Homo sapiens: one gene and its partner. The protein of the gene in region 1 purifies or fractionates together with the protein of each later gene. This does not show direct contact. Each region holds a gene or a part of one and is shown on either strand. Other genes may lie near its edges.

Region 1 (3,746 bases):
CACACCGAGGTGGCCAGGGCCCCACTATCCAGGCCAGAAACAAAGATGTTATCCTTGACACCTCCTTCCACCCACTGGATCTGAGCCGGTCCATCACCAGCCCGGTGGCTCTGCCTGTCTCCCATCAGCCACCGCCCGGTCCCTGCCTCCATCACCTTTCACCAGAGCCACAGCAACAGCCTCCCTCCTTGCTGATCACCTGCTCCAGGACATTCTCCCCCAGCAGCCAAACAATCTTTCACGACACAAATGCAATGGAGCCGCTTCCCTCTTGGGGTGTCCTGGGGGCCTCCCATTATTCCCTGGATAGAGATCAAAGCCCTCCCCACAGCCTGCCAGGTCCGCATTCCGGCTCAGGCCGACCTCTCCAGACTCACTCATCTCACACCCTGCCACTCCTGGCTCCCTCAAGACAAGCCAAATTGCCCCTTCCTGCCTCTGCTCCTCTGCCAGGAACTCCCTTCCCCAACCTCACTAGACAGCCTTGCCCAACCCAACCACCCTTTGCACCTCACTGCCAACGCTCTCAGAGTCCTCAAAGCTGGGACAGGACCCCTTACACGCTCTTTCCACAGCTTGTATTTTTCACACGTTTGGCCAGATCTCCCCCCACCTCCAAACCAGAAACTCTATGAGAGCAGGACCATGACCTGCCACTCACTAAAGGAATGGGCAGGTGGTAGGCAGCACAGAATTAAGGAGGAAGCACAGGAGGAAAAGAATCCCCAAGGTCCGCCAGCTTTGACAGGGAAGGGAAAGTCTAGTCTCCTCTCCTCTCCAGCCACAGGTACCTGGAACCTCCCTAGTGTCACTAATGGGCGTGGACTGGGGAGTGCAAACCCAGACGCCTCACTCACTGGGCACACACCCTTGACACCCTGAATCCCACCAATTCCGTTCCCACGCACTTAACTGGGCAACCCTCTGCAAGCTAGAGGTGTTCTGAGGACCAGCAAGCAACCGAGCAGCCAAAATACTGGAAGATGACCTACATATGGGAGACGGTGACTGCACCTCACTCAACCAGTCAGGGTGGGAAACCCGCCTGGGGGGAGGCGCGGCCATATCAGAGGGCAGACAAACGGGCCAGGTGACAGGGGGATGGGACAGAGGGACAAGCAGGAGCAAAATCCGAGGTGACAGAGCAGGCTCCTGGCTAGAGCAGACCCTGGGAGGAAGAAGTGAGCAGAAGGGTCCTAAGAGAGAGCCTGGGACGGGTGAGGTCGCGCCCCCGAGAGTTTGCACTTCATCCTGGGAGAAATGGCGGGGCCGCGAAGAAGTCCCGAGCAAGCGATGGACAACATAGGAGAAGGGCTGCATCCCGGAGAACGGACGCGAGCGGAGGCCGGGAAGCCCGCCCAGGAGTCAGGGTGGCAGGAAGAAGCCTGACAAGGGAAACAGCGACTGGGAGCTGGTTGGGAAGCAGGGCTCGGGAGGGCCCCTGGGAGCTGCCTTGGGGGGCGAGAGGCCGAAGCGTTTGTCGGACTGGGGGCAGTTTCGGGGCAAAAGAGCGGAATCCGCGGCTCGGACGGGTGCTCCCCGAAGGCAAGGGCCGCGTCCGCAGGAGGGTGGGAGCGCAACCCACGCCGGAGGGCTGAATGGATGGGGACAGGGCTTTCCCAATCACAGACGCTCATCCGCGGTCCGCGCCCCTGCTCTGGGCTCCTCGGGCAGGACCCGCGGAAGCCCTGGGACTGCAGGGGTCTCGGGGACGTCCAACCGGGCTGTCAGGCCCTCGAGGCCCGGCCCGGGACCCCGCGCGGCCGCGCCCGCCCCCGCCCCTGCCCGGCACTCACCACCCCGGCCCGCGCCCCCGGGCCCCAGGGCCGCGCTCCATGGCTCCCGGCCGCCCGCCCGTGCGTCCGTCGGTCCCTCCGCACCCCTGCCCGGCCTCCTGCACCGCCACCGCCGCAGCTCCCCCCACGGACGGAAGTGAGCCTCGTTCTCACCACCGCCCCGGAAGTGACGCGAGGAGCGCGCGGGGCGGGGGTCTGCAGGCACAGAGCGACCGCGCGACTAGCGTCCTGGGGGCGGGGCTGATATGTCGAGGGGCGTGGCCTGCTGCTCTGTGGGCGGGGCCAAACTTAGGTTTCATTCACTTGGGGACCCGGAATAGGTTGAGGCCAGTAAAGTTCTCGCCTGGAAAACAAAATTTACAGGGACGCCAAAAAAAACTCAGACATCAACATTTAGAAATGTTTTAAAATATTTTTCTTTATGAGATGGAGTCGCGCTCTGTCGCCCAGGCTGGAGTACAATGGCGCGATCTCAGCTCACTGCAACTTCTGCCTCCTGGGATCAAGCGATTCTCCTGCCTCAGCCTCCTGAGTAGCTGGGATTACCGGCGCCCACCACCATGCCCAGCTAATTTTTGTGTTTTCAGTAGAGACGGGGTTTCCCCATGTTGGCCAGTGTGGCCTCGAACTCCTGACCCCAGAATCCTCCTGCCTCAGCCTCCCAAAGTGTTGGGATTACAGGCATCAGCCACCGCACCTGGCCTCTTTTTTTTAACATAGAGTCTACTCTGTCACCCAGGCTGGTGCCATCATAGCTCACTGCAGCCTCGACCTCCCAGGATCAAGTGAACCTCCTACTTCAGCCTCCTGAGTAGCTAGGACTATAGGCACAAGCCACCATGACCAGCTTATTTAAAGTCTTTATATATTGCTCATCAGAAATTCTTTTGCATTAGTTTTTAAAATATTACATTAGGCCGGGCACGGTGGCTCATGCCTGTAATCCCAGCACTTTGGGAGACTGAAACAGGTAGATCACCTGAAGTCAGGAGTTTGAGACCAAGCCTGACCAACGTGGTGAAACCCTGTCTCTACTAAAAATACAAATATTAGCCGGGCATGGTGGCACGCGCCTGTAGTCCCAGCTACTCCGGAGGCTGAGGCAGGAGAATCGCTTGAACCCGGGAGGCGAAGGTTGCAGTGAGCCAAGATCGGGCCACTGTGCTCCAGCCCAAGTGACAGAGCAAGAAGACTGTCTCAGATAAATAAATAAATAAATAAATAAATAAATAAATAAATAAATAAAACTATGATCACTCCACTGCATTCCAGCCTGGGCGAGAGAGCAAGATCCTGTCTCTTAAAAAAATTTCATTATGGGCTGGGCGCGGTGGCTCACGCCTATAATCCCAGCACTTTGGGAGGCCGAGTCGGGCAGATCATGAGGTTAGGAGATCAAGACCATCCTGGCTAACACGGTGAAACCTCATCTCTACTAAAAATACAAAAAGATAGCCGGGCGTGGTGGCGGGCGCCTGTAGTCCCAGCTACTCGGGAGGCTGAGGCAGGAGAACGGCGTGAACCCAGGAGGCAGAGCTTGCAGTGAGCTGAGACCGCGCCACTGCACTCCAGACTGGGCGACAGAGCGAGACTCCGTCTCAAAAAAAAAAAAAATTGCATTATGGCAGGGCCTAGTGGCTCACGCCTGTAATCTCAGCACTTTGGGAGAACGAGGCAGGCAGATCACCTGAAGTTAGGAGTTCAGCCTGGCCAACATGGTGAAATCCTGTCTCTACTAAAAATACAAAAATTAGGCCACCCTGGCCAACATGGTGAAACCCCATCTCTACTAAAAATACAAAAATTAGCCGGCTGTTGTGGCGCGCACCTGTAATCTCAGCTACTCCACGCCACTGCACTCCAGCCTGGGCGACAGAGCAAGACTCTGCCTCAAAAAAAAAAAAAGTAAAGAAAAGAAAATGGAAGAAGGTTACTGGAGAATCTCAGAGC
Region 2 (3,746 bases), on another chromosome or scaffold:
TCATGCAAACACTTATTGAGCACTTACTTTGTGCCATTCACTAGTCTAAGTGTTTTACGTGTATTAACTCACTGAATCCTATGAGGTACTATAATTTTACCCATTTAGTGAATGTGACAAATGAGGATTAGAGAAATTAAGTGTACAAGGTCATACAACTAGGTAACAAAGCTTGGCTTTGCACCCAGGCAGTTCACAACCCATACCCACAGAGAAACATACACATATACCTTATATTATATTGGTTCTTTTTTTTCCTGAAACAAAAGGTCTCACATATTTATTACTGAACCCAGCCTACTATCGCAGGGCATATAAGCAAAGAGAAAAAATATATTCCCAATAAAACACGTCCAACTGTTCAGACAGTGGTGACGTTTTCAGCTTGCTATAGTAAGATGGCCGTGACCTTGATACAGCGTGAATATGTGTGCCAGCTCACGTGCAGTTCCTTATAGACCCAGCTTGGCTGTTCTGCAATGTCTCCTTTCCAGTTGTGCCTGATTTTATTACCAGTTTTCAACCAGATCCACTGGAGAATGGGACGATTTGGCTTTTGTTTCTTGGCCAGGAATCGCTTACTCTTAAAAGACTTGTGAGAAGACATGACAAGAAGCAGAATCAAGCACACACCACAAGAGAGAGTTGTTTGTTTTTTGAGACAAAAATATAAAATAGTGAGACCCCAATTGTTTTATTTATTTATATTTTATTTTTATTTTTTGAGAGGGAGTCTCACTCTGTCAACCAGGCTAGAGTGCAGTGGCACAATCTCAGCTCACTACAACCTCCACCTCCCGGGTTCAATGATTCTCCTGCCTCAGCCTTCCGAGTAGCTGGGACTACACACGTGCATTACCACGCCTGGCTAATTTTTATATTTTTTGTAGAGACAGGGTTTCACCATGTGGGCCAGGCTGGTCTCAAACTCCTGAGCTCAAGCAATCGGCCCACCTCAGCCTCCCAAAGTGCTGGGATTACAGGTGTGACTTGGAAAAAGTGTAATGGTACAGTTTGTAGCAGGCTAATAATGCTCCCACCAAGAACAGTAAGAAAAGCTGGATAAAATGAATCAGGGAGCTGCCAAAGCAAACAGGCCTAGAGGAGCCAAAATTCCAGAAAGAGGTGAACTCTAGGAGGTAAGCTGATATTCCGCAGCAGATTTTTTTCCTGGAGGATTTGCCAATTCAGGGCACAGGGCTAGATGCTGAGAATCTGGGCCTTGCTCAGGTAAAGAACAAATTACTGAGGGAAAATTTAACTAGTAGGAGAGTTGGCAGTCTTTACTTTTTAAAATTTTTTTATTTATTAATTTTACTTTGAGACAGAGTCTTGCTCTGTCACCCAGGCTGGAGTGCAGTGGCACGATCTCAGCTCACTGCAACCTCTGCCTCCCCAGGCCAAGCACTTCTCATGTCTCAGCCTCCCGAGTAGCTGGGATAACAGGCATGCACCACCATGCCTGGCTAATTTTTTTTTTTCTTTTTTTTTTTTGAGATGGAGTTTCACTCTGTTGCCCAGGCTGGAGTGCAGTGGCACAATCTTGGCTCACTGCAACCACAACCTCCCGGGTTGAAGCAATTATCCTACCTCAGCCTCCCAAGTAGCTGGGACTACAGGCACCCACCACCACGCCCGGCTAATTTTTGTATTTTTAGTAGAGACGGGGTTTCACCATGTTGGGCAGGCTGGTCTCGAATTCTTGACCTCAAGTGATCCACCGGCCTCGGCCTCCCAAAGTGCTGGGATTACAGGCATGAGCCACTGTGCTTGGCCCTAATTTTTTGTATTTTTGGTAGAGACGGGGTTTCACCATATTGCCCAGGTTGGTCTCCAACTCCTGAGCTCAGGCAATCTGCCCGCCTTGGCCTTCGAAAGTGGTAGGATTACAGGAGTGAGCCACTGTGCCCAGCAGAGTCGGCAGTCTTAACAAAGCTAAGGAGGTAAAATCAGATTCTGGAGGGAAGATCCCATAAAAAAGGAGAAAGTAGAACTGAGCGTATCACATGGTAGGTTTTCTTTTCAAGACATGCTGAATTCAGGCCGGGCACAGTGGCTCGCGCCTGTAATCCCAGCACTTTGGGAGGCTGAGGCAGGCGGATCACGAGGTCAGGAGATCGAGACCATCCTGGCTAACGTGGTGAAACCCCGTCTCTACTAAAAATACAAAAAATTAGCCGGGTGTGGTGGCGGGCGCCTGTAGTCCCAGCTACTCGGGAGGCTGAGGCAGGAGAATGGCGTGAACCCAGGAGGCGGAGCTTGCAGTGAGCCGAGATGGCACCACTGCACTCCAGCCTGGGCAACAGAGTGAGACTCTTTCTCAAAAATAGAATAAAATAAAATAAAGTAACTAGTATGACTAAATCACAAGGGTCCTTACAAAAGAAAGAGGGAGTAGGTGGGTCAGAGTCAGAGAGTTGAAGATGCTGTGCTGCTGGCTTTGAAATTGGAGGAAACGGCTTATGGGCTAAGGAGTTCAGGGGCCTCTAACTGGAACAGACGAGGAAATGGATTCAGTCTTAGAGCCTCCAGAAGGAATGCAGCCCTGCTGACATCTTCATTTTAGTTCAATGAAACCCATTTTGGATTTCTGATCTCCAGAACTGTAAAGTAATATATTTGTGCCATTTTCAGCACTGAGTTTGTGATAATTTGTTACGGCAGCAACAGGAAACTAGTACACTAAGGAAAAAGCCTCTGACATGAAGAGCAAAGTTTTATGCTGAGGAGACAAGATCTGAAAGTCAGCACCTGTTGGAGGTAGAGGCCTGCAGAGGCCTAATGAACATTCGAGGTTCTTGGTTGAAAGACTTGGAGGGCTACAATTAAGAAACAAGGGGGCCAGGCACAGTGGCTCACGCCCATAATCCCAGCAGTTTGGGAGGCCAAAGTGGGTGGATCACCTGAGGTCAGGAGTTTGAGACCAGCCTGGCCAACATGGTGAAACCCCATCTCTACTGAAATACAGAAATTAGCCGGGCGTGGTGGCGTGCGTCTCTAATCCCGGTTACTCAGGAGGCTGAGGCAGGAGAATCACTTGAACCCGGGAGGCTGAGGTTGTGGTGAGCCAAGATCATGCCATTGCACTCCAGCCTGGGCAACAAGAATGAAACTCTGTCTCCAAAAAAAAAAAAAAAAAAAAAATAGAAACAAGGGTGAGGCTGGGTGTGGTGGCTCACACCTATAATCCTAGCACTTGGGCACTTGGGGAGGCCAAGGCAGGAGAATCACTTGAGCCAAGGACTTCAAGACCAGCCTGGGCAACATGGTGAAACCCCATCTCAACAAAAACATACAAAAATTAGTTGGGCGTGGTGGCTCATGCCTACGGTCCCAGCTACTTGGGAGGCTGAAGCAGGAGGATCACTTGAGCCCAGGAGCCAGAGGTTGCAGTGAGCTGAGATCGCACCACTGCACTCCAGCCTGGGCAACAGAGTTGAGACTCTGTCTCAAAAAAGAAAAAAAAAAGGGATGAATTTAAGATAGGGCCTTTTTAAAACCACAACTCTCAGATGAGTTGGCACAAGAAAAGAAAATTTTTTAAAAAGATAAAACTGTAACCCAACCTCAATTCAGCTCAGTACCTGAAGCTAAGCGGCCAATACTCTTCCTGCACAGCAGAAGAGAGAGTTAAGTCCTTTCTGGAAGAAAATAATATCATCTGGAGGTCTATAATTCTTTTAAGCAATATCTAAGATTCAAACTAGGCATGCCAAGAGACAAAGCCATATACATGATTATCAAGA

Evidence for each region. The genes of interacting proteins can lie anywhere in the genome.
Region 2: the proteins of ABHD17A (region 1) and DYNLT2B purify together in Homo sapiens (affinity purification with mass spectrometry; 3 studies listed by BioGRID and IntAct, with this or other methods). This does not show direct contact.

What each region holds. Positions count from the first base shown.
Region 1 is NC_000019.10:1,883,556-1,887,301, forward strand, and holds the start of ABHD17A (alpha/beta hydrolase domain-containing protein 17A), read right to left. Parts: upstream 1,942-3,746; 5' UTR 1,797-1,941; intron 1-1,796. UniProt on the Homo sapiens protein: Hydrolyzes fatty acids from S-acylated cysteine residues in proteins. Has depalmitoylating activity towards NRAS. Has depalmitoylating activity towards DLG4/PSD95. May have depalmitoylating activity towards MAP6.
Region 2 is NC_000003.12:196,297,609-196,301,354, forward strand, and holds part of DYNLT2B (dynein light chain Tctex-type protein 2B), read right to left. Parts: intron 1-3,746. UniProt on the Homo sapiens protein: Acts as one of several non-catalytic accessory components of the cytoplasmic dynein 2 complex (dynein-2 complex), a motor protein complex that drives the movement of cargos along microtubules within cilia and flagella in concert with the intraflagellar transport (IFT) system.